Homo sapiens: one gene and its partners. The protein of the gene in region 4 interacts with the protein of the main gene of each other region in a pairwise test. Each region holds a gene or a part of one and is shown on either strand. Other genes may lie near its edges. The genes, in order: MECP2, SPRED1, DNM2 and RASSF1.

What was found.
Region 1: the proteins of RASSF1 (region 4) and MECP2 interact in binary tests that used the Homo sapiens proteins (3 or more experiments, as listed by UniProt).
Region 2: the proteins of RASSF1 (region 4) and SPRED1 interact in binary tests that used the Homo sapiens proteins (3 or more experiments, as listed by UniProt).
Region 3: the proteins of RASSF1 (region 4) and DNM2 interact in binary tests that used the Homo sapiens proteins (3 or more experiments, as listed by UniProt).

The regions. Positions count from the first base shown.
Region 1 is NC_000023.11:154,023,891-154,031,831, reverse strand, and holds part of MECP2 (methyl-CpG-binding protein 2), read left to right. Parts: intron 1-378; exon of another isoform or gene 379-381; coding exon 382-1,465; 3' UTR 1,466-7,941. UniProt on the Homo sapiens protein: Chromosomal protein that binds to methylated DNA. It can bind specifically to a single methyl-CpG pair. It is not influenced by sequences flanking the methyl-CpGs.
Region 2 is NC_000015.10:38,353,532-38,358,386, reverse strand, and holds the end of SPRED1 (sprouty-related, EVH1 domain-containing protein 1), read right to left. Parts: 3' UTR 1,138-4,855; downstream 1-1,137. UniProt on the Homo sapiens protein: Tyrosine kinase substrate that inhibits growth-factor-mediated activation of MAP kinase. Negatively regulates hematopoiesis of bone marrow.
Region 3 is NC_000019.10:10,720,605-10,728,545, reverse strand, and holds part of DNM2 (dynamin-2), read right to left. Parts: intron 1-7,941. UniProt on the Homo sapiens protein: Catalyzes the hydrolysis of GTP and utilizes this energy to mediate vesicle scission at plasma membrane during endocytosis and filament remodeling at many actin structures during organization of the actin cytoskeleton.
Region 4 is NC_000003.12:50,337,642-50,345,524, forward strand, and holds the start of RASSF1 (ras association domain-containing protein 1), read right to left. Parts: upstream 3,196-7,883; 5' UTR 3,165-3,195; coding exon 2,915-3,164; intron 1,566-2,914; exon of another isoform or gene 1,453-1,565; intron 660-1,452; exon of another isoform or gene 383-659; coding exon of another isoform or gene 371-382; coding exon 264-370; exon of another isoform or gene 1-263. Other genes in the region: ZMYND10 (zinc finger MYND domain-containing protein 10), read right to left, coding at 3,769-3,844, 3,933-4,058, 4,169-4,290, 4,374-4,499, 4,756-4,928, 5,277-5,377, 5,477-5,565, 5,666-5,803 and 4 more. UniProt on the Homo sapiens protein: Potential tumor suppressor. Required for death receptor-dependent apoptosis. Mediates activation of STK3/MST2 and STK4/MST1 during Fas-induced apoptosis by preventing their dephosphorylation.

The DNA of each region.
Region 1 (7,941 bases), on a different chromosome or scaffold from region 4:
AGAAGGGTGAGCAAAGGATTATCTTGTTGAAACTGATTCCTGGAGAGACTGAGCACCGTACCTGAGTTCAAACTTGGGAATGTTCTAGATGGTGACTCAGGCCCAGGCACCAACCAGCAGAATGGGCCTCAGCCTGACAACCCTTCTGTACCAGGCCTGACTCTTTGGTTGCTGAACTTTGGAGAGGCCTGGGGGGGTCAGCGGCAGGCAGACGAGTGAGTGGCTTTGGTGACAGGTCCTCAGGGGCAGCCAGGCAGTGTGACTCTCGTTCAATAGTAACGTTTGTCAGAGCGTTGTCACCACCATCCGCTCTGCCCTATCTCTGACATTGCTATGGAGAGCCTCTAATTGTTCCTTGTGTCTTTCTGTTTGTCCCCACAGTCCCCAGGGAAAAGCCTTTCGCTCTAAAGTGGAGTTGATTGCGTACTTCGAAAAGGTAGGCGACACATCCCTGGACCCTAATGATTTTGACTTCACGGTAACTGGGAGAGGGAGCCCCTCCCGGCGAGAGCAGAAACCACCTAAGAAGCCCAAATCTCCCAAAGCTCCAGGAACTGGCAGAGGCCGGGGACGCCCCAAAGGGAGCGGCACCACGAGACCCAAGGCGGCCACGTCAGAGGGTGTGCAGGTGAAAAGGGTCCTGGAGAAAAGTCCTGGGAAGCTCCTTGTCAAGATGCCTTTTCAAACTTCGCCAGGGGGCAAGGCTGAGGGGGGTGGGGCCACCACATCCACCCAGGTCATGGTGATCAAACGCCCCGGCAGGAAGCGAAAAGCTGAGGCCGACCCTCAGGCCATTCCCAAGAAACGGGGCCGAAAGCCGGGGAGTGTGGTGGCAGCCGCTGCCGCCGAGGCCAAAAAGAAAGCCGTGAAGGAGTCTTCTATCCGATCTGTGCAGGAGACCGTACTCCCCATCAAGAAGCGCAAGACCCGGGAGACGGTCAGCATCGAGGTCAAGGAAGTGGTGAAGCCCCTGCTGGTGTCCACCCTCGGTGAGAAGAGCGGGAAAGGACTGAAGACCTGTAAGAGCCCTGGGCGGAAAAGCAAGGAGAGCAGCCCCAAGGGGCGCAGCAGCAGCGCCTCCTCACCCCCCAAGAAGGAGCACCACCACCATCACCACCACTCAGAGTCCCCAAAGGCCCCCGTGCCACTGCTCCCACCCCTGCCCCCACCTCCACCTGAGCCCGAGAGCTCCGAGGACCCCACCAGCCCCCCTGAGCCCCAGGACTTGAGCAGCAGCGTCTGCAAAGAGGAGAAGATGCCCAGAGGAGGCTCACTGGAGAGCGACGGCTGCCCCAAGGAGCCAGCTAAGACTCAGCCCGCGGTTGCCACCGCCGCCACGGCCGCAGAAAAGTACAAACACCGAGGGGAGGGAGAGCGCAAAGACATTGTTTCATCCTCCATGCCAAGGCCAAACAGAGAGGAGCCTGTGGACAGCCGGACGCCCGTGACCGAGAGAGTTAGCTGACTTTACACGGAGCGGATTGCAAAGCAAACCAACAAGAATAAAGGCAGCTGTTGTCTCTTCTCCTTATGGGTAGGGCTCTGACAAAGCTTCCCGATTAACTGAAATAAAAAATATTTTTTTTTCTTTCAGTAAACTTAGAGTTTCGTGGCTTCAGGGTGGGAGTAGTTGGAGCATTGGGGATGTTTTTCTTACCGACAAGCACAGTCAGGTTGAAGACCTAACCAGGGCCAGAAGTAGCTTTGCACTTTTCTAAACTAGGCTCCTTCAACAAGGCTTGCTGCAGATACTACTGACCAGACAAGCTGTTGACCAGGCACCTCCCCTCCCGCCCAAACCTTTCCCCCATGTGGTCGTTAGAGACAGAGCGACAGAGCAGTTGAGAGGACACTCCCGTTTTCGGTGCCATCAGTGCCCCGTCTACAGCTCCCCCAGCTCCCCCCACCTCCCCCACTCCCAACCACGTTGGGACAGGGAGGTGTGAGGCAGGAGAGACAGTTGGATTCTTTAGAGAAGATGGATATGACCAGTGGCTATGGCCTGTGCGATCCCACCCGTGGTGGCTCAAGTCTGGCCCCACACCAGCCCCAATCCAAAACTGGCAAGGACGCTTCACAGGACAGGAAAGTGGCACCTGTCTGCTCCAGCTCTGGCATGGCTAGGAGGGGGGAGTCCCTTGAACTACTGGGTGTAGACTGGCCTGAACCACAGGAGAGGATGGCCCAGGGTGAGGTGGCATGGTCCATTCTCAAGGGACGTCCTCCAACGGGTGGCGCTAGAGGCCATGGAGGCAGTAGGACAAGGTGCAGGCAGGCTGGCCTGGGGTCAGGCCGGGCAGAGCACAGCGGGGTGAGAGGGATTCCTAATCACTCAGAGCAGTCTGTGACTTAGTGGACAGGGGAGGGGGCAAAGGGGGAGGAGAAGAAAATGTTCTTCCAGTTACTTTCCAATTCTCCTTTAGGGACAGCTTAGAATTATTTGCACTATTGAGTCTTCATGTTCCCACTTCAAAACAAACAGATGCTCTGAGAGCAAACTGGCTTGAATTGGTGACATTTAGTCCCTCAAGCCACCAGATGTGACAGTGTTGAGAACTACCTGGATTTGTATATATACCTGCGCTTGTTTTAAAGTGGGCTCAGCACATAGGGTTCCCACGAAGCTCCGAAACTCTAAGTGTTTGCTGCAATTTTATAAGGACTTCCTGATTGGTTTCTCTTCTCCCCTTCCATTTCTGCCTTTTGTTCATTTCATCCTTTCACTTCTTTCCCTTCCTCCATCCTCCTCCTTCCTAGTTCATCCCTTCTCTTCCAGGCAGCCGCGGTGCCCAACCACACTTGTCGGCTCCAGTCCCCAGAACTCTGCCTGCCCTTTGTCCTCCTGCTGCCAGTACCAGCCCCACCCTGTTTTGAGCCCTGAGGAGGCCTTGGGCTCTGCTGAGTCCGACCTGGCCTGTCTGTGAAGAGCAAGAGAGCAGCAAGGTCTTGCTCTCCTAGGTAGCCCCCTCTTCCCTGGTAAGAAAAAGCAAAAGGCATTTCCCACCCTGAACAACGAGCCTTTTCACCCTTCTACTCTAGAGAAGTGGACTGGAGGAGCTGGGCCCGATTTGGTAGTTGAGGAAAGCACAGAGGCCTCCTGTGGCCTGCCAGTCATCGAGTGGCCCAACAGGGGCTCCATGCCAGCCGACCTTGACCTCACTCAGAAGTCCAGAGTCTAGCGTAGTGCAGCAGGGCAGTAGCGGTACCAATGCAGAACTCCCAAGACCCGAGCTGGGACCAGTACCTGGGTCCCCAGCCCTTCCTCTGCTCCCCCTTTTCCCTCGGAGTTCTTCTTGAATGGCAATGTTTTGCTTTTGCTCGATGCAGACAGGGGGCCAGAACACCACACATTTCACTGTCTGTCTGGTCCATAGCTGTGGTGTAGGGGCTTAGAGGCATGGGCTTGCTGTGGGTTTTTAATTGATCAGTTTTCATGTGGGATCCCATCTTTTTAACCTCTGTTCAGGAAGTCCTTATCTAGCTGCATATCTTCATCATATTGGTATATCCTTTTCTGTGTTTACAGAGATGTCTCTTATATCTAAATCTGTCCAACTGAGAAGTACCTTATCAAAGTAGCAAATGAGACAGCAGTCTTATGCTTCCAGAAACACCCACAGGCATGTCCCATGTGAGCTGCTGCCATGAACTGTCAAGTGTGTGTTGTCTTGTGTATTTCAGTTATTGTCCCTGGCTTCCTTACTATGGTGTAATCATGAAGGAGTGAAACATCATAGAAACTGTCTAGCACTTCCTTGCCAGTCTTTAGTGATCAGGAACCATAGTTGACAGTTCCAATCAGTAGCTTAAGAAAAAACCGTGTTTGTCTCTTCTGGAATGGTTAGAAGTGAGGGAGTTTGCCCCGTTCTGTTTGTAGAGTCTCATAGTTGGACTTTCTAGCATATATGTGTCCATTTCCTTATGCTGTAAAAGCAAGTCCTGCAACCAAACTCCCATCAGCCCAATCCCTGATCCCTGATCCCTTCCACCTGCTCTGCTGATGACCCCCCCAGCTTCACTTCTGACTCTTCCCCAGGAAGGGAAGGGGGGTCAGAAGAGAGGGTGAGTCCTCCAGAACTCTTCCTCCAAGGACAGAAGGCTCCTGCCCCCATAGTGGCCTCGAACTCCTGGCACTACCAAAGGACACTTATCCACGAGAGCGCAGCATCCGACCAGGTTGTCACTGAGAAGATGTTTATTTTGGTCAGTTGGGTTTTTATGTATTATACTTAGTCAAATGTAATGTGGCTTCTGGAATCATTGTCCAGAGCTGCTTCCCCGTCACCTGGGCGTCATCTGGTCCTGGTAAGAGGAGTGCGTGGCCCACCAGGCCCCCCTGTCACCCATGACAGTTCATTCAGGGCCGATGGGGCAGTCGTGGTTGGGAACACAGCATTTCAAGCGTCACTTTATTTCATTCGGGCCCCACCTGCAGCTCCCTCAAAGAGGCAGTTGCCCAGCCTCTTTCCCTTCCAGTTTATTCCAGAGCTGCCAGTGGGGCCTGAGGCTCCTTAGGGTTTTCTCTCTATTTCCCCCTTTCTTCCTCATTCCCTCGTCTTTCCCAAAGGCATCACGAGTCAGTCGCCTTTCAGCAGGCAGCCTTGGCGGTTTATCGCCCTGGCAGGCAGGGGCCCTGCAGCTCTCATGCTGCCCCTGCCTTGGGGTCAGGTTGACAGGAGGTTGGAGGGAAAGCCTTAAGCTGCAGGATTCTCACCAGCTGTGTCCGGCCCAGTTTTGGGGTGTGACCTCAATTTCAATTTTGTCTGTACTTGAACATTATGAAGATGGGGGCCTCTTTCAGTGAATTTGTGAACAGCAGAATTGACCGACAGCTTTCCAGTACCCATGGGGCTAGGTCATTAAGGCCACATCCACAGTCTCCCCCACCCTTGTTCCAGTTGTTAGTTACTACCTCCTCTCCTGACAATACTGTATGTCGTCGAGCTCCCCCCAGGTCTACCCCTCCCGGCCCTGCCTGCTGGTGGGCTTGTCATAGCCAGTGGGATTGCCGGTCTTGACAGCTCAGTGAGCTGGAGATACTTGGTCACAGCCAGGCGCTAGCACAGCTCCCTTCTGTTGATGCTGTATTCCCATATCAAAAGACACAGGGGACACCCAGAAACGCCACATCCCCCAATCCATCAGTGCCAAACTAGCCAACGGCCCCAGCTTCTCAGCTCGCTGGATGGCGGAAGCTGCTACTCGTGAGCGCCAGTGCGGGTGCAGACAATCTTCTGTTGGGTGGCATCATTCCAGGCCCGAAGCATGAACAGTGCACCTGGGACAGGGAGCAGCCCCAAATTGTCACCTGCTTCTCTGCCCAGCTTTTCATTGCTGTGACAGTGATGGCGAAAGAGGGTAATAACCAGACACAAACTGCCAAGTTGGGTGGAGAAAGGAGTTTCTTTAGCTGACAGAATCTCTGAATTTTAAATCACTTAGTAAGCGGCTCAAGCCCAGGAGGGAGCAGAGGGATACGAGCGGAGTCCCCTGCGCGGGACCATCTGGAATTGGTTTAGCCCAAGTGGAGCCTGACAGCCAGAACTCTGTGTCCCCCGTCTAACCACAGCTCCTTTTCCAGAGCATTCCAGTCAGGCTCTCTGGGCTGACTGGGCCAGGGGAGGTTACAGGTACCAGTTCTTTAAGAAGATCTTTGGGCATATACATTTTTAGCCTGTGTCATTGCCCCAAATGGATTCCTGTTTCAAGTTCACACCTGCAGATTCTAGGACCTGTGTCCTAGACTTCAGGGAGTCAGCTGTTTCTAGAGTTCCTACCATGGAGTGGGTCTGGAGGACCTGCCCGGTGGGGGGGCAGAGCCCTGCTCCCTCCGGGTCTTCCTACTCTTCTCTCTGCTCTGACGGGATTTGTTGATTCTCTCCATTTTGGTGTCTTTCTCTTTTAGATATTGTATCAATCTTTAGAAAAGGCATAGTCTACTTGTTATAAATCGTTAGGATACTGCCTCCCCCAGGGTCTAAAATTACATATTAGAGGGGAAAAGCTGAACACTGAAGTCAGTTCTCAACAATTTAGAAGGAAAACCTAGAAAACATTTGGCAGAAAATTACATTTCGATGTTTTTGAATGAATACGAGCAAGCTTTTACAACAGTGCTGATCTAAAAATACTTAGCACTTGGCCTGAGATGCCTGGTGAGCATTACAGGCAAGGGGAATCTGGAGGTAGCCGACCTGAGGACATGGCTTCTGAACCTGTCTTTTGGGAGTGGTATGGAAGGTGGAGCGTTCACCAGTGACCTGGAAGGCCCAGCACCACCCTCCTTCCCACTCTTCTCATCTTGACAGAGCCTGCCCCAGCGCTGACGTGTCAGGAAAACACCCAGGGAACTAGGAAGGCACTTCTGCCTGAGGGGCAGCCTGCCTTGCCCACTCCTGCTCTGCTCGCCTCGGATCAGCTGAGCCTTCTGAGCTGGCCTCTCACTGCCTCCCCAAGGCCCCCTGCCTGCCCTGTCAGGAGGCAGAAGGAAGCAGGTGTGAGGGCAGTGCAAGGAGGGAGCACAACCCCCAGCTCCCGCTCCGGGCTCCGACTTGTGCACAGGCAGAGCCCAGACCCTGGAGGAAATCCTACCTTTGAATTCAAGAACATTTGGGGAATTTGGAAATCTCTTTGCCCCCAAACCCCCATTCTGTCCTACCTTTAATCAGGTCCTGCTCAGCAGTGAGAGCAGATGAGGTGAAAAGGCCAAGAGGTTTGGCTCCTGCCCACTGATAGCCCCTCTCCCCGCAGTGTTTGTGTGTCAAGTGGCAAAGCTGTTCTTCCTGGTGACCCTGATTATATCCAGTAACACATAGACTGTGCGCATAGGCCTGCTTTGTCTCCTCTATCCTGGGCTTTTGTTTTGCTTTTTAGTTTTGCTTTTAGTTTTTCTGTCCCTTTTATTTAACGCACCGACTAGACACACAAAGCAGTTGAATTTTTATATATATATCTGTATATTGCACAATTATAAACTCATTTTGCTTGTGGCTCCACACACACAAAAAAAGACCTGTTAAAATTATACCTGTTGCTTAATTACAATATTTCTGATAACCATAGCATAGGACAAGGGAAAATAAAAAAAGAAAAAAAAGAAAAAAAAACGACAAATCTGTCTGCTGGTCACTTCTTCTGTCCAAGCAGATTCGTGGTCTTTTCCTCGCTTCTTTCAAGGGCTTTCCTGTGCCAGGTGAAGGAGGCTCCAGGCAGCACCCAGGTTTTGCACTCTTGTTTCTCCCGTGCTTGTGAAAGAGGTCCCAAGGTTCTGGGTGCAGGAGCGCTCCCTTGACCTGCTGAAGTCCGGAACGTAGTCGGCACAGCCTGGTCGCCTTCCACCTCTGGGAGCTGGAGTCCACTGGGGTGGCCTGACTCCCCCAGTCCCCTTCCCGTGACCTGGTCAGGGTGAGCCCATGTGGAGTCAGCCTCGCAGGCCTCCCTGCCAGTAGGGTCCGAGTGTGTTTCATCCTTCCCACTCTGTCGAGCCTGGGGGCTGGAGCGGAGACGGGAGGCCTGGCCTGTCTCGGAACCTGTGAGCTGCACCAGGTAGAACGCCAGGGACCCCAGAATCATGTGCGTCAGTCCAAGGGGTCCCCTCCAGGAGTAGTGAAGACTCCAGAAATGTCCCTTTCTTCTCCCCCATCCTACGAGTAATTGCATTTGCTTTTGTAATTCTTAATGAGCAATATCTGCTAGAGAGTTTAGCTGTAACAGTTCTTTTTGATCATCTTTTTTTAATAATTAGAAACACCAAAAAAATCCAGAAACTTGTTCTTCCAAAGCAGAGAGCATTATAATCACCAGGGCCAAAAGCTTCCCTCCCTGCTGTCATTGCTTCTTCTGAGGCCTGAATCCAAAAGAAAAACAGCCATAGGCCCTTTCAGTGGCCGGGCTACCCGTGAGCCCTTCGGAGGACCAGGGCTGGGGCAGCCTCTGGGCCCA
Region 2 (4,855 bases), on a different chromosome or scaffold from region 4:
TATAAATTATTTCCAGGTTAACAGAACCAGTAATTTTGAGAGAATACTAATCTCATTGTGGGAAACATGTTTCAGTAGTAGTCCTGGCCGGGTGCGGTGGCTCATGCCAGTCATCTCAGCACTTTGGGGAGGTCGAAGTAGAAGGATTGCTTGAGCCCAGGAGTTCGAAACTAGCTTGGGTAACACAGCATCACCTTGTCTCTACAAAAAAAGAAAAAAATTAGCTGGGTATGGTGGCAATTGTTGTGGTCCCAGCTACTTGGGAGGCTGAGGTGGAAAGGTTGTTTGAGCCTGGGAGGTCAAGTTTGCAGTGTAATGTGATTGCTCACTGCACTCCAGCCTGGGCACAGAGCGAGACTGTGTCTCCAGAAAAAAAAAAAAAAAAAAAGTAGTCCTGACAATAAATGCAACTTTGGTTCCCAAAAGAGGCTCTGTGGAATAACTGACAGATGAATCGCTCATCATTTGGGGGGGGGGGGGCGGGGGGAGCGGGAGGTCGGAAGAGTACTGTATACACGGCTCATTTTAGAGCATTGTTTCCTACTGCCTCAAGGAGAAGTATTGCTGCTTTGGTGAAAATGAATCCCTCCAATAAAATACCACCAATTGAGCAAAATGAACAATTCCACAAACTGAACTATGTATGTTTTTAGTGCTTCCCATTGGATCAACTCACAACTGGCATATCTTGAAGCATTATCACAATTATCCTCCAATTTAAAAAATTCCCATGCCATACTGTGGATCACGTACCACAACTTAGTGAGATAGGGGGCCCAGAAATGGACAAGGGAGAGTAGAAATTAAGAAATTATTCCTTTATAAAACAAAATTACTCCAGCTTAAAATAATAAATAGAATTTCATTTTAACAGAATGATTATTTTATGAAGTGTATCTGTGACTCCTGTAACAGAAAGCTGAAACTGCATCAGGAAGAAAAGCCTATGCTTTGGAGTCAATTTGTTTCAGACCTGGTGCCTCTGTGTTATCTGGTATTTTGACCTTTTGATGCCCAAATCTCTTCCTTAGAAAAATAAGGAAGATAATACTTACAAGGTTACTTGAGGATTAAAAGTAATCATGTATAAAATACATTATGTAACAAAAATAAAGACAAAAGAAACACTATTTCAACTGTGATTTTGTTAAGACTTTTATTATGAATGTATTTTTTGAACCATCATTTCAGATCTCACTAAAACTGCAAATCTTAGAGCAGTTCAATTTAAAGAGTGACTACAGCTTTCATACCATTGATGTCGATGTCTTTTTCTTTAAGGAGCACTATGTGCATGACACTTATATTGATAGCCAAGCTAGAACCCTAGTTTCAATTTCCTTGTTATAAAAGCTATTCTACTTACTTGTGGGTATTAACTTGATGTGAAGAATGTAAAGCAAATTCTGAAAAACCTGTAAATAAGCACATGAGACTACATTTCATAATTAATGGTAAAGATACAGTTACTCCTTGATTTTTCAAATAAACTATAATATAGTAATCCAACTTATTCTAGTGTTGAGATACACTATAATTTTTTATTACTGTCCTAATAACCTTTCCTTTAGATTATTCGTTATTTTTGGTTATATGGCGAGTTAAGTAAAACGATGAAACTGACTTGAATATAAAAAAATCAGTAGTCCTGGGTTAAACAATTGCCACTTAAGGTCATTAGCTTAGCTGCAACATGTTACCAAACCAATAAATATAACATTATTAGCTTAGAGACTTAAAAAAAAATCTGAATACAATTAAGGATGAATAAATATGTTATTAAGATGAACTATATGTGAACTTTCAGTTTAAAAGTATACTTTTAAAGAACAGAGCTAATTATCAAAAGCTTCCATTTTTACTTTCTCCTCCAGTAATTATCTCTTATGTGATAATTTGATAAGCTCTAGGAGAATAAGAAAAAGTCCTTTTATAATTCATGACAGGTTTAATCAGGTAATTCCAGGAGGGAAAAAAACCATTAAAACAAATTCTTATGATAATCATCTGCTATGTCCAATTACACGGGTATGAAGTAACAGAAATGGTTACAAACTTATAATGTATTATTTACATTATATACTCAAAACTATCAAGCTAGTTAACTATATCTGAGGAGACACATTATGACATGAGTTAAACAGTTTTTCATTGTTCATTAGAAAGAATGCAGTCAAGCTTTTAATGGAAATAATATACAAGTGAGGCACTTTTGAGGTCAGAAATAGAAAGCAAACGACACTACACACTGGAAATGTTCACAAAAATCTATGTGTATTTTTAATACAAAGACTTTTCAACTAGTTTATTCTTGAAAAAATTTCAAAACAACTGATGCAATTTAAGAAGCTTTCAGGAATAATGGCTAACATTTATCAGTGTACCAAAGCATATGAATCTTTTATAACCACCTGGCTGCTAGGCAAACAGTACCTAATACCTTAAAGCCTTTTTTTTTCTTTTGGTTTATATAAATCACCTCCGGTTGTGTTTCTCTCTTAAAGAAATTCATTCTTCATGTTTGTCTCATTGCAAAACACCTCATGGTGCTATTATGATTTATAGACTTTTTTAGTGCAACAATAATGCCAGTTTCTAGTGCTTCCTCTTACACTTTGAAGTGTGAACATGGAAGTCAAATCAAGAATGAGCATAATAATTAGTAAAGAATCCTTGCTTTTCAGGTAACTAAAGTTTTCTAAGTTTTATGTGGAAAAAATGTTACACTTGCTTAATGCACCTTTGGGCTACAATTAAAAACCCAATTTAACACATACTTCCAAGTGTAATCACAAAATCGAATGTAAATTTCAACACAAGAAATATCCTTAAGATTCTTTACATTGACCATTTAGAGGAAAGCACATTTCCTGTACTCTGGAGACTCACGTGCATATTAAGAAACATTTCCGTGCCATTTAATTAAGGGGGCAGGGGAGAGGAAAAAGAAAAGAAAAAGCAAGACTTACCCAAGATATCAGATGGCACTATACACATGAATTGAAAGTGCATTTACATTACTTCAAAAGCTCATTTTAGGCACTGCTGAATAACCAATGAAAATAGGTAGTTTCAAGTTTTTCCCTTTAGATTTTAACCCCACCCCATCATCATTTCAGAAACATACACACGGCTGGGCGCAGTAGCTCATGCCTGTAATCCCAGCACTTTGGGAGGCCGAGGTGGGTGGATCACCTAAGGTCAGGAGTTCAAGACCAGCCTGGCCAACATGGTGAAACCCCATCTCTACTAAAATACCAAAACTTAGCTGGGCATGGTGGTGGGTGCCTGTAATCCCAGCTACTTGGGAGGCTGAGGCAGGAGAATCGCTTGAACCCAGGAGGCGGAGGTTGCAGTGAGCTGAGATCGCACCATTGCACTCCAGCCTGGGCAACAAGAGTGAAACTCCGTCTCAAATAAAAGAGAGAAAAACGTACACACACACTCTCTGAAGCTGTCATGATAAAATACAGGTGTGATTATGTTTTTTCATGTTTTGATTATTATTTTTAAAAATTCTCCCTGACTGGCGGAAGGAGGAAAAAAATACCATTTTGGTAATGGCTTTTGAGAGTTAAAGCAACTGGTTCTATAAATGCCTCAGTACATCCATTAAGTTTGATTGCCAGTCCCAAATATCAACAAATATTTTAAAACAGGATATGTAAGAAAAAAGTGCTTAAAATCTTTCAGCAAGCCAACAAGACACATTAGGTAAATAACCATTTTACAATTCCTTTGAGACAGTTCTTATTCCTGGTTTCCCTGGTAGAGGTGGTCACCACATAAATAGCCCTTTAATGGTAGTAGTGATGAACCCTGTCAGATCCCTATTGCCATCTCATGTCTCTGGCCTGGAAATCATCCAGTAGGTGGTGCTGAAGCTCCACACGACATACTTCTTCAGAAATCAAATGATGTCCCTTTTGAAGCCAAGAGAAATATTTAAGAATTATCAATTCTGAACAAGTTCATCAGACCAGTCTTGCTTGTCATGCCGTCTAGATGATTCCATTTTCAATACTATTACTCAAGCAGTTGTCTTGAGCCATCTGCTTATATCAGATAAAAACAAAGAAAAGTTTTAGAGGAAAAGCCAATTGGCAGTGCCGAATCTGTACAGAGAATGAGAAAATGTTCCTGAAGGTGCCTATACACATGTTTAAGAATCAGTGATTTAAACTACCCATTTGCTTTCACAAAGGAATTCTCATTTACTCAAAAGAAAATTTCCATATAGGGATTCAGAGAACATTATATCATCAGTTAGTCTTGTAGACTGATTAAGAAACTGGGTATGTTAACTATAAAGATCCAAGGTAAAATAAAAACCATTTCATCACCATAGTTTTTAATGAAGAAACTTGTTTAAAATTGTAAAGGAAAAAATGGGAATGGGACGGCAAAATCTTAGCAGCAAAGTGGTTAAACAAATTGAAAATATTAATGCACAAACATTAAAATATTAAAGCATATATGTTGCATATAAAATACAGTACAGAACCAGGAGTTGCACTATACTGATTAGTGCTTAACAGAAGAAATGATTAAATTTGTTCCTCCCAGAAGTATATACACAGTTCATTTCCACAGCATTTTCCTATATAGCCAGCAAGTTATTTTCTTCAGTTATTCACACCTTGATCAAACCTGAATTATAAACTTAGCACTTACAAATATGAAAATTCATTCACAAGGAAAAACAGTATTTCCATTTCACCAATAAAAATTTTGAAAGTTAACAGTCTATTCTAGGAAACCAAGTTTAGCTGAAAACTTCAGGGATGAAGATCATCTGTTGTAGCAGCATTCAAATATATAAACAGTAAAAATAAGACTTAAAACTGCTGCCTAC
Region 3 (7,941 bases), on a different chromosome or scaffold from region 4:
CAACCTCGATGCATATCCAAAGCCACGCGTTGCTCACTCCCTCTGTAATCTTGGCCCAGTCCTCAGATACAAACGCCATGGTGCCCACCATTCAGCCCTGCTCTCAAGAGTCAGGCCCACACCTTCCCACCCAAAGCCGCCATATGTGTGGCTCTAGAGGGCCCACATCCAGTTCAAGCTCCAACTCCTCTGTCCTCCTCCCTGTGTGACTTCAGGCCAGTCTCCCTCTCTGGCCTCAGTTTCTCTACCTATAAAGCAGGGATGCTAAGAGCAGCAGCTGCCACCCCTGGGCAGAGAAGACACTGGTCAGATCTTGCACATGTGGCACACGGTGATTCTCCATAAACACTGGCTCTTAACATCATAAATGTCCAGCAGCAGATGAAACTGAAACAGTCATCCAGCTCCCGGTTCAAGCTACGGGTGACGCCACAGGGGAAAATTTCCCACCACCCAGCAGGGACCTAGTTACCAATATTCACAGAAACCCAAAACGCACCCGGAAGCAGGCGTCTTTCCTCTCTTTGCAGTCCTGCTTCAGACGCAGGGCCACATTTTCCCTTTATTCAGATTGTAGCTAATGCCCTATAAATATCTCATTATTGGCTTGGATTTTTCCAAAGCTTTAACACAATAAGGGCTTAATTACAGCTTGTAGTTGGCAATCCCAGTAAATTACGGTTTACATGATGTTCTCACTTTTTTTCAGCAGCCGAGGGGCCTATAATTTCAGCACTTTCATTCAAATCGGGCAGAAGTTTGGCAGATGTGGCTCTGAGCCAAATATAAACGCTGAGAGCGACAGCGAGACAGGGTTCCATTCAAAGGCCAGCCTCTACCGCCTAAGCCAACTCTGAAAACTCTAAATCTAACCTAGGCCGGGTGCCGTGGCTCTTGCCTGTAATCCCAGCACTTTGGGAAGCCGAGGCAGGAGAATCACTTGAGCCCAGGGGTTTGAGACTAGCCTGGGCAAAAAATAATGAGACCCCACCTCTACAAAAAATTTCTTAAAATTAGCTGGGGGTGGTGGCGCACACCTGTGGTCCCAGCTAATTGGGAGGCTGAAGTGGGAAGATCCCTTGAGCCCAGGAAGTTGAGGTTGCTGTGAGCTGTGATCACGCCACTGCATTTCAGCCTAGGCAACAGAGTGAGATCCCGTCTCAAAAAAAAACAAAAAAAGAAAAAGAAAAGAAAAGAAAACCTCCTCTCTAAATCTACAACTGTCCCCAAGGCCATCTTCCGCCCTCATCCAGAAACAATCCAGGTTATTACCAGGGGATTTCAATGTTATGAACCTATCAAGGGCTGTTATCCGTCAATAAGTAACTCTGAAAAAGCACTTGGACAGCCTAGAGCGCAGCTTTGGAGAAATCTGTCTTCCTGATTATAAACCTAATCCCCAAACCAGCAAAAACAAACCAAGAATCACATGGGGAGACGATTCACATGTGGGGTTAGGGCAGAGTATGTCTTTCCGGTCTTTTCACTGAGCAAATACAATCGTTTTAAACAAGACAGGATCCCACAGCCCATTTCATCTGGTACCTAACAGGTCTTGTGCAGCTTTCTGGGTCATTAAAGATTCTTCTAGATCCCTCTGAGTAGCGAGTTGATAGTCGGTTGTCTGGACACGCTTATCTGGCCAAATCCCCTATCATTGGTTTTTGTTTGTTTGTTTGTTTTGAGACAGAGTCTCGCTCTGTTGCCCAGGCTGGAGTGCAGCGGCGCAATCTCGGCTTACCGCAACCTCCGTCCCCCAGGTTCAAGCGATTCTCCGCCTCAGCCTCCCGAATAGCTGGGATTACAGGCGCCTGCCACCACGCCCGGCTAATTTTTGTATTTTTAGTAGAGATGAGGGTTCACCATGTTGGCCAGGCTGGTCTCGAACTCCTGACCTCTGGTGATCCGATGCTGGGCATTTTTTCTCCCATTTCTCATCACCGTACACAAAATGTGTGTAAATAACTCTCACGGCCAATTACTTGTTTGCAGCCATGATTCCCACTTAGAAAGGAACCAGGAACAACTTCTGGTCGATATTTCAGGATCTGGGGAACAGGGCGTGCCTGCATGTCCTGGTCCTGGCTGTATCCCCAGAGCAAGAACATTGCCTGCACTGATAGGCACTCCATTTATATCAACAGAGTAATGATGAGTTCCTTCTCTTTAAGGAAAAAGAAACTAAGGCCGGGTTCGGCGGCTCACACCTGTAATTCCACCACTTTGGGAAGCCAAGGCAGGAGGATCGCTTGGGCCCAGGAGTTTGACACCAAACTGAGCAACAAAGTAAGACCCTGTCTCTAAAAAAAAAAAAATTTTTTTTTTTTGAGGCAGAGTCTCGCTCTGTCGCCCAGGCTGGAGTGCAGTGGCACGATCTCGGCTCACTGCAACCTCCGCCTCCCAGGTTCAAGCGATTCTCCTGCCTCAGCCTCCCGAGCAGCTGGGACTACAGGTGAGAGCCACCACACCCACCTAATTTTTGGATTTTTAGTAGAGACAGGGTTTCACCATGTTGGCCAGGATGGTCTCAATCTCTTGACCCCGTGATCCGCCCGCCTCGGCCTCCCCAAGTGCTGGGAATACAAGTGTGAGCCATCGCTCCCTGCCAAAAAAATTTTTTTGTAATTAGCCAGGTGTGGTGGCTCATGCCTATAGTCCCAGCTACTCAGGAGACTCAGGTGAGAGGACCACCTGAACCCAGGAGTTGGAGGCTGCAGTGAGCCATGATTACGCCACTGTACTCCAGTCTGGGGGACAGAGCAAGAGAAAAGAAACGTACACCTGTCATCAGAGTCCTGATCCCAGATAAAAGGAGACAAAAGCCAACCAACGAGATCACAAATGCTGCCTGTTTCACAACAATTTGCTACGTGATTCTCAGTCCACTCCCAGTAGGCAGAGACCACCATGTTCCCATTTTCCAGATGAGGAAACTGAGGCCCAGAGAAGTGAGGTCACTTTTTTGGTGTGTGGCAGAACCAAGCCTTCCATATTCCCACAGATCCCTCTGGACTGTACCAATTCCAGCAGGCCCAGCACTGCAGACCACCCTAACCGAGCCTTGCATGGCCTTTCCTTTTTTCCTTTTTTTTTTTTTTTTGAGATGGAGTCTCACTCTGTCCCCCAGGCTGGAGTGCAATGGCGTGATCTCCGCTTACTGCAAGTTCCTCCTCCTGGGTTCAAGTGATTCTCCTGCCTCAGCCTCCCAAATAGCTGGGACTAAAGGCATGCGCCACCACACCTGGCTAATTTTTGTATTTTTAGTAGAGATCGGGATTCACTATGTTGGCCAGGCTGGTCTCAAACTCCCAACCTTGTGATCTGCCTGCCTCGGCCTCCCAAAATGCTGGGATTACAGGTGTGAGTCACCATGCCCGGCCATGTATGGCCTTTTCAAGATGCAATTTGTCTTTGCCCAAAAGGAAAGTCACTGGAAACAGAAGATGTCATTTCCAAGTGGCTCTAAACTAATAAGATCTGTTAAAGGGACAAACCAGCCCAAGGAACACATCACGTGCCCCTCCATCTGTCAGGGACAGGAGCCAACGGGCATCCGATGTGCACTGGTGCAGCACCCACTGAGGCACAGGCAGTGCCCCCGCGGCTCATCCACATATCCCTGGAGGGACACATCACCAAAGGCCAAATAAAAACGCAGCTGGAAACGCCAGCATCCCCGGCACAGCTGCTTCTTATTAAAAGAAAAATGGCACGGGGCGCCTACATGCCTGTGGAGTCTGCTTACTGAGAAAACTGAGTTGAAGCTGGAAATCAAAGGAGAGAGCCCTCAGCTTGGCCAGGTCCAGAGGGACAGCAGTAGCGCCACCAGCTTTACTTCCCTCTGCTCAGACAGCCTCCCTGCCCACAATGTTCCTAGAGGCCTGGTCCCACCCTAATATCTCCCAGATCTGATCTCCCTCCACTGGCCTGCTAAACTGGCCTCCGGGCATCCTCCCACATCAGGACCTTTGCACTGGATTCTCTTCCCGTCTCCAGGGGTTCCTTCCTCGCCTCCTTCAAGGCTCTGCTCAAATGTCACCAATTTCCCTATTTAAAATGTACCCCCTCTGGCCAGGCGCAGTGGCTCACGCCTGTTATCCCAGCACTTTGGGAGGCCGAGGCGGGCGGATCACGAAGTCAGGAGATCGAGACCATCCTGGCTAACATGGTGAAACTCCATCTCTACTAAAAATACAAAAAATTAGCCGGGCCTGGTGGCAGGCGCCTGTAATCCCAGCTACTCGGGAGGCTGAGGCAAGAGAATGGCGTGAACCTGGGAGGCGGAGGTTGCAGTGAGCCGAGATCGCGTGACTGCACTCCAGCCTGGAAGACAGAGTGAGACTCCGTCTCAAAGAATAATAATATAATAAAATAAAATGTACCCCCTCCAACTGTGATCTCTCCCTCATCCTGCTCCTTGATCCTTTTTTCCATCATACTTATCGCCTTTTTTTTTTTTTTTGAGACGAGGTCTCGTTCTTCCGCCCAGGCTGGAAGGCAGTAGCGTGATCAGAGCTCACTGCAGCCTTGAAATCCCAGGCTCAAGCCATCCTCCGGCCTCAGCCTCCTGAGTAGCTGGGACTACAGGTGTCACCATGCCCAGCTAATGTTTTTATTTTTTGTAGAGACGGGGTCTATGTTGCCCAGGCTGGTCTCCAACTTCTGGGCTCAAGTGATCCTCCCGCCTGGATCCCAAAGAGCTGAGATTGTGGGCCTGAGCCACTAAGTGGCCCATGCTTCTCCTTTATTTGCTTCCTGCTGAAAGGCCAGCTCCTCCAGAGCAGAAGTTCTGGTAACTTGCTCAGGGCCATGTCCCCAGGCACACAGTAAAAGTACTCAGGAAACATTTTTTAATGAACGAACAACACCTAATGTTTTAAGCACTTCTTCTATGCCAAGCACTCCAAACTGTCTCACTTAATCCCTATTCAAGAAAGGGAAAGAAGTGCTATTATAACTCCTATTTTAAAGAAGACGGGGCTGGGCGCGGTGGCTTACACCTGCAATCCCAGCACCTTGGGAGGCCAAGGCAGGAAGATCACTTGAGGTCAGGAGTTTGGAACCAGCCTGGCCAACATGGCGAAACCCCATCTCTATTAAAAATAGAAAAATTAGCCGGGCACGGTGGCTCACGCCTGTAATCCCAGCACTTTGGGAGGCCATGGCCGGCAGATCACCTGAGGTCGGGAGTTCGAGACCAGCCTGACCAACACGGGAAAACCCCGCCTCTACTAAAAATACAAAATTAGCCAGGCGTGGTGGTGCATGCCTGTAATCCCAGCTACTCAGGAGGCTGAGGCAGGAGAATGGCTTGAAACCAGGAGGGGAGGTTGCGGTGAGCCAAGATCGTGCCATTGCACTCCAGCCTGGGCAACAAGAATGAAACTCCGTCTCAAAAAAAAAAAAAAAAAAATTAGCCAGGTGTGGTGGCTCGCAACTGTAGTCCCAGCTACTCGGGAGGCTGAGACAGGAGAATCACTTGAACTCAGGAGGCGAGATTGCAGTGAGCCGAGATCGCACCACTGCACTCCAGCCTGGGCAACAGAGCCAGACTCCGTCTCAAAAAAAAAAAAGAAAGGGAAAGAAGTGCTATTATAACTTGTATTTTAATGAAGAGGAGGCTGGGCGCAGTGGCTCACACCTGTAATGCCAGCACGTTGGGAGACTGATGCAGGAGGATCATTTGAGGCGAGGAGGTCGAGACCAGCCTGGGCAACACAGCAAGGCCCTGTATCTACAAAAAATGAAAAATTAGCCAAGCGTGGTGGCACGTGCCTGTAGTCCCAGCTACTTAGGAGGCTGAGAGGTAGGAGAATCGCTTGAGCCCAGGAGGTCAAGGCTGCAGTGAGCAGAGATGGTGCCACTGCACTCTAGCCTGGGTGACAGTATAAGACCCTATCTCAGGCCAGGCGCGGTGGCTCACGCCTGTAATCCCAGCACTTTGGGAGGCCGAGGTGGACGGATCACAAGGTCAGAAGATTGAGACCATCCTGGCTAACATGGTGAAACCTCGTCTCTACTAAAAATACAAAAATTAGCCAGGCGTGGTGGCGGGTGCCTGCAGTCCCAGCTACTCGGGAGGCTAGGGTGCGGGAATGCCTAAGGCCTTCCTTCTGGCCAGCCCCTGAGGCTAAATGACAAGGGTCAAGAGGGAGTGATGCCCTCCTTTCTCCTTAGGGCCAAAGTTCTATCTGCTGGTGCACCGCAGACAAGCCAGGGGTCTCAAACTCAAAGGTTCCAGGGCCAGGAGGCTCCAAGCAAAATGATCTAGGCCTGGGTGAGTGCTAGGGAGTAGTGGGGACTGTGGCAGCTGGAGTGGCCACTCTTAGTCTGATGGGACAGTGACTGGTGCTTCTGAAATCGAAGCCATTACTGCCACAAGGGACAAAGGCTCAGCAACGCCAGGTGAAACTGATTACAACAACAGCCACCATGCGTATAAGACACATGCACTCGGCACGCATCACCCAATCACCCATCTAGGCCCCAGGGTACCAGTTACCACCCTCAGCTTACAGAAAAGGAATCTGAGGCCCAGAACGCCAAATCCACGTGGCCGAGTCGCACAGCCAGACATGGTGGAACCAGGCCTTAGGCCCACAGCCTTTGCATGACAACTCAGAACTCTATAGATCTGAGTGTCTTAGAGCCACAAGAAATCCGGATATTGACTGGAAATCTAACACTGGAAAGTCTTATTAAAAACAAAAGCTACGCAGGTAAAACAAAAGACCCAGCAGGCAGGCCTTGGCCCCCAGAGCCAGTGATCTGGACTTCCAGCTATAGGGCTGAACTAACTGGGCTGTTCCCACTCGGACCACATCCTTAGAAAATCCAGGCTCGGCGCAATGGCTCACACCTGTAATCCTAGTGCTTTTAGAGGCAGAGGCAGGAGGATTGCTTGAGCCCTGGAGTTCGAGGCTGCAATGAGCTAGGACTGCACCCCTCCACTCCAACCTCGGCAACAAAGAGAGACCTTATCTCTTACACCCCCCCAAAAAAAAGTAAGCCTTGTTTGAGCCCCTCATACCCAAAGAGAGGCCTTTTTACAACTTTGGCTTTCAGGTACTGAATTAATACTCTTAACGAGGCCAGCCATGGTGGTTCACACCTTTAATGCCAGCATTTTGGGTGGCCGAGGTGGGCGGATCACCTGAGGTCAGGAGTTCAAGACCAGCCTGGCCAACATGGTGAAACCCCATCTCTGCTAAAAATACAAAAATTAGCCGGGTGTGGTAACGCGCGCCTGTAATCCCAGCTACTCGGGAGGCTGAGGTATGAGAATCGCTTGAACATGGGAGGTGGAGGTTGCAGTAAGCTGAGATAACACCACTGCACTCCAGCCTGGGGAACAGAGTGAGACTCGGTGTAAAAATATATATATAATGAGCAACTCCTGCATTGCAGGATTCTAGGAGGTCGCCACAGGAACCAGCTCCATACTGGCCGGCAGCTGCCAGACACCATGGTAGACAGGAGAGAAAGGCAAGGGGTAGAGGGACTGAGGAGAGGTAAGGATGGGAGAGAGACCCAGGTTCCCAACCCAGAACACCTAACTCCTCACTTTACAGCCTCCAGTGAGAGTGTTCTGCTCAGCTATCTGAGCCTCAGTTTCCTGCTCTGTAAAATGGGGATTATAGCAATGCCTCCCTCATAAGGCTTAAGTGTGTAACGTGAAAGCACTTTCATTCTGGTTAGCTTTTGTCCCTGATAGCAAAGGAACCAGCCAGATAAACAACAATAGCCCCATCCATGTAGACCTACTATGTGCCAGGCAGTGCGTTAGGTAAGTAAGCACTTTTTCTTTTCTTTTTTTGAAACCGGATCTGGTTCTGTCACCCAGGCTGGAGGGTAATGGTGCAATCACGGCTCACTGCAGTCTGGACATCCTGGGCTCAAGCAGTCCTCCCAGGGCCAGCCTCCTGAGTTGCTGGGACTACA
Region 4 (7,883 bases):
GAGGGCGGGAAGGTGCGGGAAGTGCGCGTGCGCGGAGCCTGGGTCAGCCTGGGCCCGGGTCCGCTTGCAGCGGGTGGAGTACTTGCGGAGCCGGCAATCCAGGCTCCCCTCCCAGCCCCCGCGCAGAATTAGCCTCTCTGTGCCGCCGGGAAATCGGCAATTAGAACGCTCCTTGCGCGCGGCACCCAGGCAGCCCTCGAGAATGCCTGCACTGTGGCCTGCCCATCCTCGCCCTTCCCATACGCCCTCGGCCCCGCGCTCACCACGTTCGTGTCCCGCTCCACCGCGGGTTCCCAGCCCAGGTCCCGGGGCCCGCAACAGTCCAGGCAGACGAGCGCGCGGCAGCGGTAGTGGCAGGTGAACTTGCAATCTGCAGAGAGGCCTGGCGGTGAGGCGGAGGAGCTCCAGGTCGGGGAAATGTCCCGGAGATTGAAGGGAAGCCCCAGGGAGAGGGCCGCTGCTCGCCAGGCTCCGCAGGCCCGACCTATCTCAGTGGGTTACCTCACACTGCTACGCGGACTCTAATGTTGGCCACCTGGGCGTCTGGAAACCGGCCGGAAGGCCACAGGCAGAGAGGCCTGCTCAACAGTTGGATCTCTATCGCCTAGCACAGAACTTCCCCTTTCCTCATTGGCAATTAAAAAAACAACAACAAAAAACTGCGTCTTGCTTTTGTCACCCAGGCTGGAGTGCAATGGCGCGATTTCGGCTCACCGCAACCTCCGCCTCCTGGGTTCAAGCGATTCTTCTGCCTCAGCCTCCTGAGTACCTAGGATTACAGGCGCCCGCCACCATGCCCAGCTAATTTTTGTATTTTTAGTAGAGACGGGGTTTCACCATGTTAGCCAGGCTGGTCTCAAACTCCTGATCTCAGGTGATCCACCCGCCTCGGCCTTCCAAAGTGCTGGGACTACAGGCTTGAGCCACCGCACCCGGCCCTTCACTGGGAACGTATATGGAATACATCTGCCCATTTACTTGAAGGAAAAACTAAACACCTTTAACCTACGTCTGCCCTGTGGTTGTCACCTGTCTCTACTCCCCTCAGACCAAGACACTGGTCTCTATACACTCTAATCCTTCGCCTTCACTCTCCCCTCTACCCACTCCAGCCAGGCTTGCCTCTTCCTCCAGGAAACTGCCCGGGACAGGGTCCTCAGCGATCTGTGTACTACCAAATGGAATCCAGTGTTCCATTCTCCATTCTCACCCCCTCAGCATCATTTGAAGCTTGCTCCCTTTGACTCCCAGGGGCTACACTCTCCCAGTTTTCCTCCTACCCCCTGCAGCTCCTGCTCAGCTCCTTTGCAGATTCTGACTCAACTTCCATATCTCACGATGAAGTCTGGGCTCAGTCCTGATCACTGGCCTGGTCTGTCTACATTCATCTGCCCCAGATCCACGGCTGAAACACTGACCTAAACCCTCAGACTAGATCCTCCGTGCCAGTACCTTCACTAGGATGTCTAAAAGACGTTTCAAGTGAACATGGCCAAAATTTAATTCCCTTTTCTTCAGCCTCACTGCTACACTTGCCCAGCTTCCTCTTTGCAGCAAAAATGGCCACTAGGCTCCCAGTTACTGGAGACAAAAGCCCAAACTTATCTTTGATTTCTCCCTTGTCTCTACCTCTGATAAACATGCCCAAATCATCCTGCTTCTTATCTCCATGGCTACTTTATTTCTCTTTGAGAACGCTGCAATGTCCCAGCCTTGTTCTTTTTTTTTTTTTTTTTTTTTTTGAGACAGAGTCTCACTCTGTCGCCAAGGCTGGAGGGCAGTGGCACGATCTCGGCTCACTGCAACCTCCGCCTCCTGTGTTCAAGCAATTCTCCCACCTCAGCCTCCCGAGTAGCTGGGATTACAGGCACCCGCCACTACGCCTGGCTCATTTTTTTTTATTTTTTAGTAGACATGAGGTTTCACCATGTTGGCCAGGCTGGTCTTGAACTCCTGACCTCAGGTGATCCACCCGCCTCCGCCTTCCGAAGTGCTGGGATTACAGGCATGAGCCACCGCGCTCGGCCCCTTGTTCATTCTTTGCATTCTGTCACAACTTTGTGCTCCCCCCAGCTGAATTTGTGATGTCCTCTTGTACCGGATGAGAGGGTCTCCATGCACACACAGACCTGGGACACTATCCATCCACAAGTTCCTAAATAGGCCAGAGCAGTGATGCTCAACCCAGACTCCATGTTACAATAATTTGGGGAGTTTTTAAAATTTACTGATGCCTAGGGTCCACTCCCAGCAGTTGATTCAACAGGTCTGCGGTGGGATCCAGGCTAGCGGGGAGGACTGTAAAAGCACCCCTGGTGATTCCAGCTGGTGTCTACCCAGGGGAGAGCAACCTTTGCTTGCTGGCGATTCCCAGGGGTGCAGAAGGACTGCTGGGTGTGTGGCTGCGTGCATATTTTAGCATCTGATTCACTGGGTCAGAAAAGGGTGTTTGCTAAATAAAGACTCAACAAAACTCCTGCTTGCAGGGGGCCCACCAAAGGTTCTAAATTTTTCCAGGCTCCCTCCCATAGGTGGTAATTTCCCTTCACCCTAAAGGTTCTGGAGGGGGTCATGAGTGTTTGAGAAGAGGCAAGCCTGGGAAGATGGACTCCGAGGACAGTAGGCACAAACCCTTTCTCAAGAAGGGCCAAGGCATTTTAAAGATAAGAAACTTAAAATCAGCGTATTTTTACATATAAGCAGCCACCTCTGCTCATCTGTGGCCCAGATACGAGTGGAGTGCGACAAGGGATAAACCATTTTCGCGCACTCTTCAGCGATGGGGCGAAAGTAACGGACCTAGTCCTCGGGAGCTGTCCCCGCCGACCCCCTCTGCCGCGACTTGACCCGCGGCGACTGCGCTGCCCCTTGGCTGCCCCTTCCGCTCTCGTAGGCGCGCGGGGCCACTACTCACGCGCGCACTGCAGGCCTTTGCGCACGACGCCCCAGATGAAGTCGCCACAGAGGTCGCACCACGTGTGCGTGGCGGGCCCCGCGGGCTGGAAGCGGTGGCCACGGCCAGGGACCAGCTGCCGTGTGGGGTTGCACGCGGTGCCCCGCGCGATGCGCAGCGCGTTGGCACGCTCCAGCCGGGTGCGGCCCTTCCCAGCGCGCCCAGCGGGTGCCAGCTCCCGCAGCTCAATGAGCTCAGGCTCCCCCGACATGGCCCGGTTGGGCCCGTGCTTCGCTGGCTTTGGGCGCTAGCAAGCGCGGGCCGGGCGGGGCCACAGGGCGGGCCCCGACTTCAGCGCCTCCCCCAGGATCCAGACTGGGCGGCGGGAAGGAGCTGAGGAGAGCCGCGCAATGGAAACCTGGGTGCAGGGACTGTGGGGCCCGAAGGCGGGGCTGGGCGCGCTCTCGCAGAGCCCCCCCCGCCTTGCCCTTCCTTCCCTCCTTCGTCCCCTCCTCACACCCCACCCCGGACGGCCACAACGACGGCGACCGCAAAGCACCACGCGGAGATACCCGTGTTTCTGGAGGCCAGCTTTACTGTGCTAGAGGAAGAGGGTCCCCACATCCGGCCCTGGCCCTCCTGGTCCGGTTTGCTGAAGCAACACACTTGGCCTACCCACTGGGTGGGGCAGGAAGTCTCGAGCCTTCACTTGGGGTGAGGAGGAGGGAGATCGGTCAGCAGCTTTACCGCCCGCTCTGCTCTCCACTGCGGAGACTGGGGCTCCGGCAGAGGCTGGACCGTGATCTTGAGGTTCAGGGGTGCATTCTGGGTGGATTCCCTTGGCATGGGTGGTCGGCCCTCAGCAACTGCAGCCCTCATTTGGCTCTGTCACCCTGGGCTGCCAGGACACAAGTCTTTCCATGCTTTTCCCAGTGCTTGACTTGGCACTCCCTGCAGGCAGGTGGGTATTGAGGATGGCAATGCATGTGGGGGATGTGGGAGTAGGGCTTAGAGGTCCAAGGTTCTAGGATACCCTCACCTGCAGCAATACCACTCATTCTGGCATCGTGAGCAGCGCTTAGAAGCCTCTGCACTGCAGTAAGCACAGCGGGGCCGCTCTGGAGCCACTGCCTCTAGCACATCCAGCCTGTAGGTCTCAGCCCACCTGGGGGAAAGTCAGGAAGGTCTGACTGGCCCTGGAAGGTGGGGGCACCCCACCCACATCCATGCCTCCTGCATCCCCTCCACCCTCCCTGCCATTTCCACAGGCCTTACCTTCGCGCCTGCAGCCGCAGGTCCTGCTCTGAGGGGCTGAACACATGCTGGAGCTGGTGCTTGGCAATTGCCTGCCACTTGCCTCTGTTTTCTCGCTCCAGCCGCTCCCAGATTTCTGGGATCTAGGAGAGAGAAGTGGAGAGTGGCAGGAAGGTGCTGGTAAAGTGGGACAGTGGTCCTGAGCAGCTAACTTTCCAGTGCCTACCTGTTCCAACACCAGGTCCTTCTTAGGAGGCTGGGTTTCAGTTAGGGTCAGATGGGCCAGGAAACTCTGCAAGTGGGCCAGGTTGGGCAGCTGGTCCAGCAGTGTGTCTGTGAGGAAGGCCCGAAGCTGCAAGGGTGTCCAGTGGAGGCCAGTGTGATGCAGGTGCTGGCCAGGGGGCCAAGGAAAAGGAAGGGGCTGGGTTGGGCTGAGAATGCCTGTGGGGGCCCATGTCCCACTAGCTGGTGTGTCACCTGAGGCCCAAGGACTGAAAAGAGCACTGGGGTTGAGGTGGGTGGGCAAAGATAAACAGCAGGGACGCAGTCGGGGTAGGATGGGGAGGGCGGTACTGGGGCTGTGGGGGCTGGTGCGGAGGGAGTCTGACCTTGAGTAGCCGTCCCTTGGCAAAACTTGTGAGGCAGTAGCGCGCCTGAGCCTCAGGGCTTAGCAGCAGGTTGTACAGGGCGATCCACACTTGCCCGTCCAACTTGCTCAGCTTTTGCTGCTCTGAGGGGGCCACAGTATGCCAACGGCTGCCCTCGAACTGCTGCAGCTTGCCTGGGGAGAGGAACCAGCACACTGGGTGCAGACGTTGAATTCTCTTCAAGTGAGCCAGCTGTGGGGGCTGGGAGACTGACCACTGCCTGGGAATGGGAGAACCTGGGCTGCAGGACTTGCCCAGGCTATAGGGCTGCTGACCCCAGAGCAGGGTGAGCCTCAGTAGTGGACACATGGGCCTGGCCTGCTGCAGAGCTCAGGTCTAGGCCAACCTTGGCTGAGGCATCCTGGTATCCTCAGTGGGCTTGGGGACAGGGTTTGTCTTCGTGTGTGCAAGCTGCCCCCCTCTATCAAAAAGATACCCTGAAGCAGTAGCCTGGGGCTTAGGCTGGTGGGGGAGGACCCTACCTCCTTCCCGCCGGCTCCAGGGACTATGCTCCAGCAGTTCCACCAGGAGGCAGGGCAGGTTGTGTGTGCTAAGCATACGGCTCAAGGTGCTGAGAGAGAGGCTAGGGGCAGGGACGTTGTGAAGGAGGTGAGTAGAGGCAGGCTACAGGCCCGGTCTTCCAGCCCTCCACAGTAGGCCCAGGCCCAGTCGGACTGCTCACCTGTCCACACAGTCTGTGATGTAGCGTAGTACTGAGAGGGCCTTCAGTGCAATCTCAAATTCCATCAGCTCTGCCTGCTTCTGCAGCTCCTGGGAGGTCACACAGTGTTCACGCTGGGCCACCCTCACCTGCGCAGGCCTTGGGGAACCCAGACCTAGGCTTTCACAACCCTAGGTAACCTCAACCCACCTGCATGGGGTTGCTGTCCTGGGATCCCTCCCCCTCAGGGGGGCCACCACAGCCACTCTGGGCCACCAGCAGGGTCAGTTTGCGGTGGCAATAGTCTACCAAGTCCAAGACAGTGTCTTCTGCTGACTCACACACCTCCTGGGAAAAGGAGGAGGGAAACTTTCTGTGTCTGATGCCTTCCCCACACAGACACAATCTCCCTTCCTGCCAGGCCCTGACCCGGAACTGTGGCCCATGGGCAGAGATAGTCCCTCACCTTGTGGAAGAACACTGTCTCCAAGAGGTTGATGATGGAGGCCTCGTGGTGCACCTGTCAGATAAAGAGAAGGACAGGGCCTGAGGAAGGGATAGGGGCTACCAGCTCTCCTCCCCGGTCCAGAGCCCTCTGAAGGAGTGAGAAGAGGTATGAACCAGGGGCCCAGCTCACCACCATGTAGATGGGGAAGGTGTTCTGGGGCTTGAAGTCCTCCACCCTGCAGAACACAGGGAACACCTTCTGCTTCCACATCTCCACTGCGATCAGCTCCTCCACCAGTGTTGGGACCTTTGAAGGGTAGGGTAAAGGACAGGGATGAGATGGGCCTACCTTTGCCTGGCAACCCTCCCATCCCCGGCTCAGCTCAACCCTGATATCCCCAAACACTGCTGGGCCCCTAAACTATTCCAGACCCATGAGTATCCTTCCTGACTTCTCTCTTGCACCTTGGACCTTCATTACCAGCTGCTCCCAACACCTCTGTGGATGTCCCTCATGCTTATGTGACTGGCTCCTGCCCAGTTCCCAGACTGCCTTGCCCTGCCTGCACCTGCACCCTTATCCTCTGCCCGCCCATTCAGGCATCCCTTTCAAGCCAGCCCTTCTCCTCATGCCCTCCCTCTAGTCCCTGTCTGTGGTCCTCCAAAGCTCTTGTGTGCCTTGGCCTCACTCCTACTCAGGACCCTTCACAGTGCCCTGTTCCTATCCTATCCCCTAGTATGAGTTCCATCTTTCTTTTGCAAAGGACCTTTCTTTTTTTTTTTTTTTTTTTTGAGACGGAGTTTCACTCTTGTCACCCAGGCTGGAGTGCAGTGGCATGATCTTGGCTCTCTGTAACCTCTGCCTCCCAGGTTCAAGCGATTCTCCTGCCTCAGCCTCCCGAGTAGCTGGGATTACAGGTGTGCACCACCATGCTCTGCAAATTTTTGTATTTTTAGTAGAGGTGGGGTTTCACCATGTTGGCCAGGCTGGCCTTGAACTCCTGACCTCAGATGATCCACCCGTCTTGGCCTCCCAAAATGCTGGGATAACAGGCATGAGCTACCATGCCCGGCTTTTTTTTTTTTTTTTTTGGTCAATTGATATCTCAGGTCATCTGCTGGTGACACTCCCTGGTCCATGTTCCAGCCAGGCATCTCCCTGGTTTCTAACTTCCCCCTTTCATGTTGGGAAGGCTGCTTCCTTCCATGCCGAAGTTCCACCTCCAGTTAGGTTATCTCCCCTCCCTCCCGCCCTCCCCAACCCCTCCCCACCCCTTCCCCACCACCAGCCTTACAGTCAATTCACAGATGCCTTTAGCATTTGGGCCTTCCCCTTGAAGCCTAAGCTGTTCTAGGACCTACAGCTTTCTCCCTAATCAACTCATGCCCTGCACCCAGCCTGGTGTGCCAGAGTCCTGTCCAATAGGGATACAAAATGAAACATGTAACACATTCCTCTTTGTCCTTCAGGGAGAACAGGTGTACCAGGCCAGAGGGGAAGGGCACACAGGGGACTCCGGAGGGGTAGAGTAGGTGAGGTATGGGGGAAGGCAGGAACCCTGCCTGTGACCTCGGGGTACCTTCCCATGGGTGACCAGCAGCTCCTGAATGGGCTCGCCCTGGCTGACTGTGGCATCGAGGATGGCTTGCATGTTCAGCTTCTCCAGGTTCTCATGCTGCTGGTTCCACCTGCCTCAGAGGGTAAGTGCATGTGCGTCCACGTGTGTGCATTAGGAGTGGGGATGGGGGCTGGATCCTACTGAAGCCTAACCTGATCCTGAGGGGACACAGGGGGCTCAGGAGCAGTAATACTCCTGTCTCGGAACGCTCTGCTCCCCCATTTGGGAGCCCCTCCACACTGGGCAGCCCCTCCCCCGAGTCAGGCCCCAGCTCCCCGACTCAAGGACAATGACTCCGGGACTCCGCCTGACCCGGGTGCCTCACCCTTCGGAGCCCATCTCGCGTAGCGGGAAGCTGCGCA